Homo sapiens: one gene and its partners. The protein of the gene in region 1 purifies or fractionates together with the protein of each later gene. This does not show direct contact. Each region holds a gene or a part of one and is shown on either strand. Other genes may lie near its edges.

Region 1 (3,500 bases):
AAACTAAAAAAGGGACTCCACCAGAAGAACGCAAATCCTCAAAAAGGACATTTTTCCCCATTCTAAGATGTTTTTCAAAAAACTGGGAAGCATCTTAAAAATAACAGCTCAGCTTATAAAATGCCAAATAGGTTTTGATATTTCTGATAAAACTTGCCTTGTGAACCTCTGGAATGGTATTTAAGTCCTCAGACAGTTTACTTGCAAAAGAACCATAAACACCATCATTCATATAATACATGAAGGCTGGTTCATCACTTCCGGTTTTTTCTACTGGAATAAAACAGGAAAGGGGAAAATGAATTTTTAATAAAATGGCTCATATGAAACAAATTAATGTAATTTTCACATTTCTCAAACTATTTAAACTTAAAAAGACACATAGAGCACGCATTTCACAAAGGAAGATAACCAATGAGCACAAGAAAAGAGTGCTCTAGGGCTGGATGCGGTGGCTCATACCTGTAATCCTAGCACTTTGTGAGGCTGAGGTGGGAGGATCACTTGAGGTCAGGAGTTCAAGATCAGCCTGAACAACATGGCAAAACTCCATCTCTACTAAAAATACAAAAATTAGCCAGGTGTGGTGGTGCATGCCTGTAATCACAGCTACTTGGGAGGCTGAGGCACTAGAATCCCTTGAATCCGGGAGGCGGAGGTTACAGTAAGACAGTGAGACAGTGAGCCAAGGCTGTGCTACTGCACTCCAGCCTGGGTGACAGAATGAGACCCTGTCTCAAAAAAAAAAAAAAAAAAAGAAAAAAGTATTAAGATTCTAGAAGACTTTCTGATAGTTGCTGTTTCAAAAAAAGAGGAAATGAAGCAGCAAGGAAAAACACTTTTTAGTTTCTTTTCAAATCAGCAAGGGGAAGGCAATATATGCACAAGGAGTTAAATATGTGTTTGAATGTAGAATTAAAAATAAAAGTTGAGATTGTGCCACTCATTCCAGCCTGGATAACAGAGCAAAAACCCTGTCTCAAAAACAAAAAAAAAAAAGAAAAGAAAAAGAAAAAGAAAACAGTGCTCTACATCGTTAGTCATCAGGTAAATGCAAATTAAAACCACAATGGACTACCATTACCACCAACCTACTGACTGGATCAACTTAAAGACTGACACTACAAAACATCAGAGAGCAGGAGGAGCAACCAGAGCTCACATGTATACACTGCCAGTGGGAATCTGTGTGTGTGTGTAGAGACAGGGCCTCACTGTTACTCAGGCTACAGTGCAGTAGCGTGATCACAGGTCACCGCAGCCTCGAGCTTCAGGGATCAATAGATCCTCTCACCTCACTTTGAAACCTTTGAAAACGCCCATTCTACTCACAGCTACTCTACTCTTAGCACAACCAATACTAATTTTCAGGTTTTTAAAATATCACTCTCCACGAAAACAAACCAAGGCTCCCTGGAGAAACAACTGATTACGGGACTGAGGCTCATTTAAAAGGTTAAAATGAGCCTGGAACATCTTGATATACCAAAAAATAACGAATTGCTCTGAGAATAATGGAGACATGTCAAGGGAAAAATAAGAGTAACAGATTATATAAACCTATTGAATAAAGATCTATGAGTCTAAACTCATAAACAGGAGGGAAGGAAAAGATATTCTTTAAGTAAAGGCCAACTAATATAAACAATAATGAAGTTAGAAATTCAACAATAGATGCTAAAACTAATGGGGTGAAAATCTGGTTAAAAACAGGTAGTTTACAGAGTCTCTAATTTAAACTTGCCACTTCACAATGGAAAGAAACCTGCCTGACACAACCTTAAACAAGTGCTCAAAACTAGCATTTAAATTAAAAAAAAAAAAAAAAATCTAGCCGGGTGTGGTGGCACGCACCTGTAATCCCAGCTACTTGGGAGGCTGAGGCAGGAGAATTGCTTGAACCTGGGAGGTGGAGGTTGCAGTGAGCTGAGATCATGCCACTGCATTCCAGCTTGGGCAACAAGAGCAAAACAGTCTCAAAAAAAAAAAAAAAAAAAAAATCATAAGGCCAGGTGTATTGACTCAAGTTTGTAATCCCAGCACTTTGGGAGGCTGAGGCAGGTGGATCACTTGAGCTCAGGAGTTTGAGACCAGCCTGAGAAACACGACGAAACCCTCTACAAAATAAAAATAGAAAAAAACCTAGCCAGGCATGGTGGCATATGCCTGTAGTCCCAGCTATGCAAGAGGTTGAAGGTAGGAGGACTGCTTAAGCCGGGAGGTGGAGACTGCAATGAGCCCTGATGGAGCCACTGTACTCCAGCCTGGGCGACAAAACAACAAGAAAAAACACCTAGCATCATCAATATTAGAATTGGCCACTATCATGTGCCTCCTAACATGATGAAGTGAGAAGAACAGAGTAACACTTTAGTGGACTTCATGCCCCAAATGCATAGCCTAAAAAATTAATCATGAGGAATCATCCAACAAACCCAAACTAAGGATCAGCTATGAAATTTCTACTCTTCAAAAATGTCAAAGTTAAAAAATACAAAGTAATGAGCTGAGAAACTTTATCTAGATTCAAGGAGAAATGACGAATTCAATGTGGTCCTGGACTGGATTCTAAGCAAGGAAAAACAAAGCTGTAAAAAAAAGACAATATTGGGGAAATGGACAACTTTCCTATGGGCTGTGGATTAGTCCACAGCCAAAAAAAAAAGTCTTCTTAATGTAAAACAGTATTTCCTACAATATTAGCCAACAAGATGGTACTGTCTAGTGCCTTTTTGTTGGTTTGACTTGAGTTAGATTACAGGGACTCTTTGTGGCCCTTATGTGAGAAAGTGTGAAAACAGAGCCTCCCTCTGACCCATGTGAGGTAAGGAGAACAGAAAAGATCACAATAAAAGTAGTTCTGAATAATGGATGAGAATTAATCATCTGCTAGACATTTATCTAAAACACACGTATCTAAACATCAGTACCAAGAAAGTTGGATTTGGAAGTCTTACGGAATGGGACCTTGGCTTTAAGATTTTTTTTTTTTTTGAGACGGAGTCTCACTCTTGTCACCCAGGCTGGAGTCCAGTGGCACAATCTTGGCTCACTGCAACCTCTGCCTCCCGGATTCAAGCGATTTTTGTGCCTCAGCCTCCCGAGTAGCCGGGATTACAGGTGTGCGCCACCATGACCAGCTAAGTTTTATATTTTTAGTAGAGATGGGGTTTCCACCATATTGGCCAGGCTGGTCTCGAACTCCTGACCTTGTGATCCACCTGGCTCTGCCTCCCAAAGTGCTGGGATTATAGGCGTGAGCCACCACGCCCGGCCAGTTTTAAGATTTTTAAAAGCTGAAAACCACCTACAACTTCATGACCATCTGCTCATTTCCAGACTAACTGCAATTATCTACCAACAAAAATAAAACTATAAACTTTATAACTTACCTCCAGAGGGAAATTTATCATTTTCAACAACTTTCTTTGCTATGATATTAACTGCGAGTGTAAATGCAGAAGACACATAGTAGCTTCCGGGTTCTGAAATTATCTTAA
Region 2 (3,500 bases), on another chromosome or scaffold:
TGGCCACATTGGGGTCATCGGGCCCGAGGCGTGTAGCATAGATCTCCAGTGCCCGCCGATAGTAATATTCCACCTCCTCAGCTTTGCCCTGGTTCTGGCACAGCAGGGCCAGGTTGCTGAGCTGCTTGGCCACATCTGGGTGAAACTTGCCCAGGACCTGGGATGGGAGAGGGAGCCAGGGGTTGGGCTCAGGGCTGCCCGGGCCCCTGCCTCCCAGACCCCCAGCCTGCCCAGCCCTGCCTGTTCCCACCTTCTCCCGGATCTCCAGTGCCCGCTTGCACAATGGCTCAGCCTCCTTGTACTTGCCCCTCTTGCCATACAGGACTGCCAGGTTGTTTAGTGTCGCAGCCACCTGGAGGTGGGAGAACGGAAGCTTCTTGACTCAGGCCCTGCAGGACTCTGGGACCTGCAGGGGATGGGGCACAGCCCCCACCTCCCACCCAACCCTCACTCACGGCTGGGTGGTCCTTGCCCAGTGTTTTCTCCCGGATGGCCAGAGCATCATTGAGCAGGTGGGCAGCCTCCTTGTACTTGTTCTGATCCCTGGGAGCAGGTAGGAGCATGGTCAGGGCTGTCCTCCAGCTCAAGGCCCTCCCCAATGGTCTGCAATCCCTGTGGTCACTCCTGTACTCACTGAGTGTGTATGACAGAGTGAGACCCAGAGTGTGGGGAGACCTGCTCAGCTCCTGCTCTCCAAGCTCCAAGGGCTGTAGGCAGTTTTCTCACAATTGGCTGGGGTGCGCAGTGCTGGGGTCCCACCGACTGCCTGGTGCCTAGCATTCCTGGGCGCCACATGGCTCTCCTGCTGCCCCTTTAGCGTGTCCTGCTCTCCAGGTCCCAGTGCCTTTGCTCATGCTGGCTTTTTGCCATGGGAACCTTTTCTAGCCCTCTTGTGTTTGGGCAAACTCACTTTCTGGCAAAGCCCCTCCTCCAGCCTTGGTGCCTGGAGAAGCTGTGTGGACTCCCCAGGACCCCTGGAGTCCTCATGTGCAGTCCCTCCCCAGTTCTGGCCAAGCCTCTCTCTTACACTAGACAGTTTTACTTGCATCTGTAGCCCAGCTCCACGCAGGTGGGCCACGAGTCCTGGCCCACAGCAGGCACCAAGGGTTAGTGATCCAGGGCTGGAGCCTTCCAGAAGAATTTGGGCACCCCCAGAGAGTCCTCACCGATAGACCAGTGCCAGGATGTTCAGCATGGTGGCAACGTCAGGGTGGTCGTGGCCTGACGTCTTCTCCAGGTCTTCGAGTGCCTGCTTGCAGAGTGGCACAGCTACCTCGTAGCGGCCCTGTGAGGCGTATTGGATCACCAGGTTGTGCAGGGTGCGGAGCCGGGCCGGGATCTCGTAGCCCCCATGCTGACCAGACACATCCCCTCCTCCTGGGCTAGGGGCTGCAGGGCCAAGGGCAGGAGGTCAGATGTACCATCTGCCCACTGGACTGGGATGGCACATGCCAGCTGTGCCTTTGAGCCACTTGACACATGGCCCTGGGCAAGTCACTAACCACTCTTTCTCAGTTTCCCCATTTATAGAATGGGTCTAGTTACCCCATAGAAAGAGGGGGTAGAGGCCCAGCTCCAGTACTTCAGGCTCTGTGTCCTGGGGCAAGCTGCCTAACCTCTGAGCCTGTGTCCCTGTGTACAGAGTGGAGGCCCCGATGCATAACCAGTACCATCAGCAAAGCAGGCACTGGCCCCATTGTGGCTGTCTGCATGTGCCTCCTTCAGAGGTGATTCGGAGAGGAAGAGAACTCTCCCAAGGGTCAGGGAAGCTAGTGGCAGAGCAGCACTGGAAGCCAGGCTGGTGACTCCACAGCTAATTGTGATGTCTGCTCACCACAGAGCTGGGGGGATGTGAGAAGCAGCAGCACGTACAACTGTTCTTGAAGCTCTAACACACTAGGATGTCATGATCAGAAGTGAGGCAGGAAGGAACATGGCAGCCACTCGGTCCCAAGGACCAAGAGTTCACACAACCTTTCCTTCCCCCACTCCAGAACTGCCCATCCGCACCTGGGCTCTGCTCATCCTCATTGGGGAACAGGTCATCCAGTGTGTCTTTGGGGACGTCCCCCTTCTCCTCCTGGGAAGGAAGACAGGATGAGCATCAGGGAAGGAGGCACAGGGCAGCCGGGGTGTCCATGGGCTGGGGTGGAGCCGAATCTGCTCCATGCTGCCCCTCCCTGCTCCCAGGCCTCCTTGCTGGGCAACAGTGACCATGGTAGGAGCTCACGTTAGGGGAGGCGTCTTCATCCAACTTGCGGATCTGGCTCATGAACAGCAAGTGCTGCTTCTCCTCCTCGAGCTGGGCCACGGCCTGCTCACTGCGCTGCAGCTTCTGCTGTGTCCCCGCCAGCTCCTCACGCAGCCACTGGTTCTCCTGCACCAGACGCCGCACCTGCGCCCGCAGCTTCTGCTTCTCTGATTCTACAGCCCCCAGGTGGCTCGACAATGCCAAGATCACCTGTGCAACCAGCCCAGGTAAGGGTCGGAGGCCTGTCGACCCCCTCGCCTATGACTGTAGCCTGGGCCTAGTTGGGCTCTGGCACCCAGTGAAGGGCCAGGCCTGGCCCTACAGTGAGGAGCTGCAGGTCTTTTCTCTGCTTGTCAAGGGAGAATCTCCTCAAGGCCCCCGACACACCATAATGCAAAGCCCAAACCCAGGAGGCTTGGGAGTCCCCAGTTCCTTCCTTCTAGGATCAGGAGAACCCCAAAAGGGCTAGTTGGGGTGCTGTGCTTTCCCTGAGCTACTAGCCCCTTCCTTCGTCTCTCCCTGGGTTGTACTCAAGCCTCTGCTGCCACAGCCAGTAGGTTACTGCTCCCTGCCTCAGGGCTAGCGCTTGCCCACAGAACTCTGCTAGATGGCTGAAGGACCACCCAAAGACTCCATCCCCACTTCTGCTGAGGGGCCACAGCATCCCCTGCCTTTCTGCAGCTCCCAGGTAGGGAAGGGGCATGTGTCCCAAATGCTCAGTTGGCATGAGGAGCCACAGGGGCAGGAAAAGTATCCAAAGGCCTTGGCCTCAACCCCCACCCCTCTCCCCAGCCTCTGCAACTCCTTTCCTTAGTTTCCAGTCTCTTCCTGCCTTCCTGCCTAGGGTCCAACCTCCCTTCTTGCTCTCTCTTTTTTTTTTTTTTTTTTAATTTAAGACAATGTCTCACTCTGTCACCTGGGCCGAAGGGCTATGGCACCGTCACAGCTCACTGCAGCCTCTACCTTCCAGGCTCAAGTGGTCCTTCCCCCTCAGCCTCCTGAGTAACTGGGACTACGGGTGCACACCACCACAGCTGGCTAATTTAAAAAATTTTTTGGCCAGGCACGGTGGCTCACGCCTGTAATCCTAGCACTTCAGGAGGCTGAGGCGGACAGATCACGAGGTCAGGATTTCAAGACCATCCTGGCCAACATGGTGAAACCCCATCTCTACCAAAAATACAAAAATTAGCTGGGTGTGGTGGCGCGTGCCTGTAGTCCCAGCTACTCAGGAGGCTGAGGCAGGAGA
Region 3 (3,500 bases), on another chromosome or scaffold:
CAGAGGAGATCTCTATTTTCATGTTTGAAGACCATGAACCCTCTGCTTCTGAATCAAAGGGGGAAAAACTGCAAAAGAAGCCATGTGCTCAAAGAAAAGAATGCCAAAGGGTATAAGTGGCTTGTGAAGAAGTTTCACAAAGCTGTCTCCATTTGCTAAAGCTATAAACAGTTCTTGATCTAGTCAATTGCAAAATACATGGATGGCCAGGGCTTCTGTTTAAGCAAAAGAAGAAAAAATATCAATAGCACAAAACTGCCCTTATAGTTTTTGAAAAAATATATCTATTAAGATAACAATTTTGATTTTTTTAATAAGCTGTGCATTAAGTACACTTTGTTTCCATCACTCTCCATTACTCTAGAGCTCCGCTTTGTCTGCCTGGGCCGGGCTGGCGACCCCACTGCCTCCCTCGGCGGTGCCACTGCTATCCGCAGGTGTAAAAGACAAGGCAGCCGAATTTATGCAGTATCTTTTCCCAGTTGGACGAGGCCCATCATCAAAAATGTGCCCAAGGTGAGCACCACACTGAAAGAGAAGAACAAAACGTCAGGGAAAAGCATGTACAAAGCAGGCTTTGAGAGGAATTCACATTAAGCAGTTTAAATGGATGACCAGCCTGTAGAGAAATGAAGGAAACCATCGTGGATGATTTCTAATCCGCCTGTCAATAGCCGCAAAGATGGTTTCTGGCAGGCTTTGCGCCACATGCTGAGAACAAAAAACACTAGAATTGTGCATATCAGAAATCATTTAGGAGCCACGTATTTTTTGATCTGTGAAGTCTCTCAGCCAGCTGAAAAATGACTGCAGTAATTTTATGAATCAAGTTGACCCTTGATCTTCCCTTGTAAGAAACATGGCAGCATAAAATCTTTCCCCCGGCATTACTTTTGGCTTTGGATGGGTGGGTTTCAGATATGCAGAAGTCCACTGAAAAGATACTGTTTAACTGGCCATGACAGAGGTGATGTTTGCTTTCATGGGCAGTAAAACTTAACATCAGACAAGTATTGGATGTTCTTGGAACCCAGCGAAGCAATGGCAAGGCTCAATAGATTTATGTCACAGTCACCAGGGCTGCAAATGTAGCAAAAGGAAACATCTCTAGCACACACAATTGTTTTTTTCCTGGCTTCCAACAAGTAGTGTCATGCTGGCTTCTTTATCCAAATGAACTCTAATATAAAGAAAAGCAATAAGCTGTTTAGCTAAAATCAATTTTACTGACTATTCAAAAAGCTGGGGAAGAAGAGACCTAAGGTCTAGACAGAGGCAGAAGGAACATCATGTTGGTGTTTGAGAGAAATAAAGCCCAGAGAAAGTTTCTCCAAAAAGGCTGGCTCAGTGAACACCCCTACACTAACTGCGTTGATGCTGGGTACAGCTCCAGGAGATGAAGGTACATGTCACACTTAGATATCTACTGCCCTTTTCCATCAGGGATGGGGCGAACGAGATGGAGACACTGGTGCACCATATTCAAGCAGGCTGTGAAAATCCATCATTTATCATGGATCAAAGAAACCAAAGCCTGGGGTAAATGACTTCCATTCATTCGTTTATTAATGGAGTGCCTGCTATATGCCAGGCACTGTTTTAGACTCTGGAGTACAGGCAACAATCCCTGGCCTCATAGAGCTTACATTCTAGTGGGAGAGACAGACAGTACACAAGAAAACAAGTGAACTATAAAGCATGGAAGGTAGAAAGCAATGCTAAGGGAGCAAAAAAGGAAGGTGATATGAAATGTTAGATAGGGTGGTCAGAAGAGGCCTACCTGGGGTGACTTTGGAATAAGGACCTGGAAGAAGTGTATCTCTAGGGGAGGGCATTTCGAGAAGAGGGAAGAGTCAAGATTTAGGTAAGAGTATGAGAGAAAAAGCATATCAATGATTTGTTAATTCTCACTGTGCTGATTTGGTGTATAAAACACTTATAAGTTTCAAGGAAAGAGTATGAATTCACAAGGGACTGGGGATGAGACACCAAATGGAGATGAAGAGAGAAAAATGAGAGAAAGTGCTCATTACAATGAAAAGCACTAGAATCTTAGTTTCCCTGTTGAACATGCTAAGCTCAATTCTCAAGTATTCCCTAGTTATTAATAAATAGCAGAAATAGCAACTTTGACTGTATGGCACTTCCATGTTAAAAGTGCATTCTCATTTCACTGCCAGCAAACTCTGTCAGTTTATTAAAGAGCTAAAAATGAACCCTGAACTGATTTGATCTATTGCCTAGAAAATATGAAACAGGCCTAAAAAACAAATCTTGTATTATTTTACCACATTCGATGCAGGTTTAGGTAATATCAAGGCTGACAGGTCAGACTGCTTTTCCTTTCTATAAACAATTGATGCCAAATTTTTAGGCATCCACAGCTAAGATGAACCAGTAAAAATACATATGCTTGCCCAACGGACACAGGAAACACCCATTTCTGCCTACCAAAATAGTCAAGGTGCTGTCCAACAGGAACCAGTGCTCTCAGTGACCAGTGTGTGTGCACAATTACTGATCTCAGATGCAGCTCCAGCACTTGGATCACTTGGCATTTAAGAGATGAAGTTTTCATATACCTAAAAGCCTTAGGGGTGTGTGTGTGTGTGTTTAATGAGAGAATGCAGCTATCTGGGAAAAATAAATGATATTGCCTTTGCTAATAATCTCTTGAGCATCTTTAGAAAATATTTCTATTTATTCTACACCAAAAATAAAGCATAGTGAGGATATATTTGAAGGTGTTTAAGAATGAGTTATATGGTCTTAATTTCCCAAATCATATTTTAAAAATCCAAATTACAGTAATTGAATCTGTTGAACTGGGTGAGTTTTCAACCTGTAGTTTCATTTGCTAATCTGGTACTAGTATTCTGGTTAAATAGAAAGGAAAACACTGATTCTAGGTGTGTCCCTAATCCAAGGCAAAAAAAAAAAAAAAAAGTGAGGAAGAGAAATTATAGTTAGAAAAAGACTATGAAAACTATTTGCTAACAAATATATGGGTTGAGGATGGGGGTAGAAAAATCCTCAGAAACGGTTTGAGTCCCCTGAAAATGATAGTTATGGCTTCATTATACTTGCCACAGGGTGTTCTGGAAGAGTCATAGCAGCCTTAGGTTACTAAGGGAAGAGCATCATCTCAAAACATAGAAAGGTGTTCATCTGTATCTGTGGCACCACATACATCCCCGCCCCACTGCCGGCAAAGCCATTTGTCTGAGGGAAGCCTAACCACGCAGTGCCATTCGAGCCTCCTCCCAGGTAAACCTAGTCTCCCAGAAAGGACTGTTACCCGGTTTCTTTGAAAAGCGCACAAGCCTTGAAGGCTCCTCCCTGAGAGTACGCGCACGGAGCCCATTCTTTGCAGCTTCTAGCCTTGGGAAAGCTGGGAGGATAAATGGAAGTTGCCAGAGGAGCATTGTTTCTTTAGCTGCCTGCAAGCTCTGCCTCCCAGGCCCCAGCCAACTGGCAATGTGTTGGGGTTTCTCAGTACA
Region 4 (3,500 bases), on another chromosome or scaffold:
TGATTTAGAGGTAAGGACTAAAGGGAAATCAAAGGTAGGGGGAGGTTTCCAACTGTGAATGGGAAGAAGAGCTGAGAATGGAAAACATCATTAAATAGGGGAGTCGGGCCAGACAAGCACAGGTGAGGCAGAGGGAAGTCTCCAGTGATACCCAAGTTATTTACAGAAATGCAGAAATTGGCATTTATGGAGTCGTGATTTCAGGCAGGGAAAGGGGGAAAAAAAACCTTCAGTCAAGATACATTTACTAAGCAATTACACAACTACAGTAAAGGAGACAAAAATTTAATTAAAAAAAGAAAAAGAAAAAGCTACATGGGAAGATATACACACGCACACGCACACACAAACATGCATGATCACAAAGGAACAGCTAACGTAGTCTAGAGCTAAATGAAATATGAGTTTTGCCTTCAAGGATAGTTAGAAATACCAGAAATAGATGAAAACAGTGGGTATTCCAACCAGGAGAATGGGGTGAACAAATGCCTAAGAAATGGTAATGCAAGAAGGGTTTTCAGGGGATAGCCAGAAGGGGCACTAATTTGTGGGGCCAAAGCTAATGTTGACATGAGGAAGGTCACCAAGGGAACAGGAGACATAGGAGGTAATCAGCGCCTATTGAGCATTTTCTCTGTGCCAGACACTCTCTCACCACTTCATTTCATTTCATCCAAATGACCCTGTGAGGTAAGTAATTATTATCTGCACTTTCAATACAAGAAAACTCATGCCCAGGAAAGCTCAGCAACTTGAAAAAAAAAAAAAAAAACTAGGTTTTTTTTTAGCTAGTGAATCTACACTCGGTTTTGTCTCACCCTTCCTGCTACCTCTACCCACCCCATTCACTGACTGTGTGCCTACTGTGAATAGTGAGTGGCCTCAGTGACACACGCCAGATTACAGCTCTCTATGATGTTCCCTCAGTCCATGATTTCACAGGGTACATGTGAAGGAAACCACTAACCCATTTCAGGTGATATAAACATCTCTGAATTTAGGGCACAGAGGAATGAAGAACTGATACATCCTGACACTACTAGACTAGAATGCACTTAGACAAAGTGACTAAATAAACTTACTTTGGTTTAAAATGTTACTGCTTTTAGATGGAAATGCAAATTGGTACAACCACTTTAGAAAACAGTTTGGCAGTTTCTTACAGAGTTAACCGTATGGTTACTTTACAACCCAGCAATCCCATTCCTGGATATTTACCCAAGAGAAATAAAAATGTATACTCACACAGAACCTATATGCAAAGGTTTATAGCAGCTTTATTCATAATCATACCAAACTGGAAACAAGCCGAGCATGGTGGCTCATGCCTATAATCCCAGCACTTTGGGAGGCCAAGGCAGGTGGATCACCTGAAGTCAGGAGTTCAAGACCAGCCTGGCCAACATGGTGAAACCCCATCTCTACTAAAAATACAAAAATTAGCTGAATGTGGTGGCACACGCCTGTAGTCCCAGCTACCTGGGAGGCTGAGGCAGGAGAATTGCTTGAACCCAGGAGGCAGAGGTTGCGATAAGCCAGGGTCACACCACTGCACTCCAGCCTGGGTGACAGAGCAAGACTCAGTCTCAAAGAAAAAAAAAAAAGTGGTATTACTGCGTGTAAATTTGAAAAAATTGTTTTAATGTTATTGCTTTGGAAGACCATTACTGTGGAAAGAAGAAAAGTTTTAAGGTGTAGCTGTATTTCTTCACTTAATCTCTAAAATCCTAACTCAGGCGCGGATTTGGTCTCCAGGCCCCTTCCCCATCCATCTACTGCCAAGAAATAATCTAAGCTTCTGAAGACTGGGGCCACTTTCCAGCTTAGGGTTTGTGGCTGATGTTTTGCTCTGGCTCTTAGGCCCTCAGGAGGAAGCACTCATCTTTAACAAGACCTGCTTTCTCAGGACTGCAAACAAGAGAAAAGCCCAATAAGAGGAAAGTGAAGTGTGAAAATCCATTTCAAAGAACTTTACTGAGAACTCACCATGTCAGAGAGCTTCCATTAATACAGTTGCTTCAAAACCAATAGGCAGAACCCAAAGTAATGGATGACTCACCAGGACTTTTAGCAGCTAATGGAGTACTCTGAGAAATGCTGTAAATCCAATATTTTTGCTGAAAAATTAATGTGTTATGGGAGGGAGCCTCTTTTCTAATCACTTACCCACCCCCACCCTCTACTTCTAGTTCACCATCAGCATCTTTAGCTCTTCTAATTTTTGCCAAAGCTGAATGCAGTTCTTTCCCAATTTTCTTATATCATTTTAAGTATTATATATGCTATCTTACCAGGCCCACTCAGAGAAACAGCACTTATCTTTAAAATTATTTTTTAACTACTCCCCACAGCCTACGGCCAATAAAAACTCTGTAAACTATGTTAAATATACCAAAGTAAAGTTTCCAGAATTCACAGAGAGATCGATAAATATTTACTAAGTGCCTTCTACAGACAAAGCCCTGGGAAGTATAAAGGAGCAAAACATGCACAGTTCTTGTCTCTAAACATGGCTTACAATGTCATTAGGCATATGACCAAAGCTAATAATAATCCAAGGCAAAAAACTTGGGAGATCATATACAAAACAAATGCTATAGGAGTTCAAAGTGGGGAAAGACTGTGGCTGGTGTGGTCAGAGAAAGACAGCTTTGCACAAAGCTGAAAAACTGCAGGAGTGATGGAGAACATTTCTCCCAAACAGGACATTTTCATAAAAGAGAAATCTAGAAACTCCACCTGTAAAATCTCTTTCTTGGAATATATCTCCATAACAAACAGAACTTTAAGGGAAAAAATGACCCCAGTTTCAAAAACACAAAGAATTTCTGGGATTCTGAATTTGGACTAACAGATAACTCCACCAAAATTCATTCTTTACTTGTCTCTGTTTGAAGGTGACATATTTCTGGATGATCTGGGCTTCTTTGGTCATCCACAGTCTGTGCCCCTAGAACTAAGGAAGGTTGTGTACATCTCAGACAGTTTTCACTTGCAACTGAGCCATGTCAGCCGGCTCCAACTGAATTGACTTGGGACCATTCTACTCATTGCATATGGCATGATACAGACTGCCAGAACCCTCATTTCCTTTAGTGCCACATTATCAATTAGGAATGGGAAGGATCCTGGCACATGCCAACCCAACTCCCAAACCCTTCAGTATCTGGCAGTCTTCTATTCTGTACATGCACTCACCAAAATATACATAAACGAATGTTCATAGCAGCACTAGCCATATTAGCCCCAAACCGGAAACTATCCAAATATCCATCAACAGTCAGTAGACAAATTGTAGTATATTCATATCATGGAATACTACAAAACAATGAGGATGAATTTGACAAGCATAACACTTAATCCCAAGAAACCACACACAAAAGAGAACATACTCTATGGTTTTATGTAATATAAAGTTAAAAAGAAACAAGCAAAACTAATAGCATCAGAAGTGAGAATCATGGTTACCCTGAAGCAGGGGGATTTAGGGACTGGAAGGG

What was found.
Region 2: the proteins of AZIN1 (region 1) and KLC2 purify together in Homo sapiens (affinity purification with mass spectrometry; 3 studies listed by BioGRID and IntAct, with this or other methods). This does not show direct contact.
Region 3: the proteins of AZIN1 (region 1) and MSRB3 purify together in Homo sapiens (affinity purification with mass spectrometry, with the first as the bait; one large-scale study listed by BioGRID). This does not show direct contact.
Region 4: the proteins of AZIN1 (region 1) and KIF5C purify together in Homo sapiens (affinity purification with mass spectrometry; 2 studies listed by BioGRID and IntAct, with this or other methods). This does not show direct contact.

What each region holds. Positions count from the first base shown.
Region 1 is NC_000008.11:102,829,664-102,833,163, forward strand, and holds part of AZIN1 (antizyme inhibitor 1), read right to left. Parts: coding exon 3,393-3,500; intron 274-3,392; coding exon 158-273; intron 1-157.
Region 2 is NC_000011.10:66,260,703-66,264,202, reverse strand, and holds part of KLC2 (kinesin light chain 2), read right to left. Parts: intron 2,479-3,500; exon of another isoform or gene 2,462-2,478; coding exon 2,231-2,461; exon of another isoform or gene 2,191-2,230; intron 2,081-2,190; coding exon 2,011-2,080; intron 1,390-2,010; coding exon 1,167-1,389; intron 544-1,166; coding exon 456-543; exon of another isoform or gene 353-455; coding exon 251-352; intron 158-250; coding exon 1-157. UniProt on the Homo sapiens protein: Kinesin is a microtubule-associated force-producing protein that plays a role in organelle transport. The light chain functions in coupling of cargo to the heavy chain or in the modulation of its ATPase activity.
Region 3 is NC_000012.12:65,460,183-65,463,682, reverse strand, and holds part of MSRB3 (methionine-R-sulfoxide reductase B3 isoform 2 precursor), read right to left. Parts: intron 529-3,500; coding exon 361-528; 3' UTR 1-360. UniProt on the Homo sapiens protein: Catalyzes the reduction of free and protein-bound methionine sulfoxide to methionine. Isoform 2 is essential for hearing.
Region 4 is NC_000002.12:148,878,227-148,881,726, reverse strand, and holds part of KIF5C (kinesin heavy chain), read right to left. Parts: intron 1-3,500. UniProt on the Homo sapiens protein: Microtubule-associated force-producing protein that may play a role in organelle transport. Has ATPase activity. Involved in synaptic transmission. Mediates dendritic trafficking of mRNAs.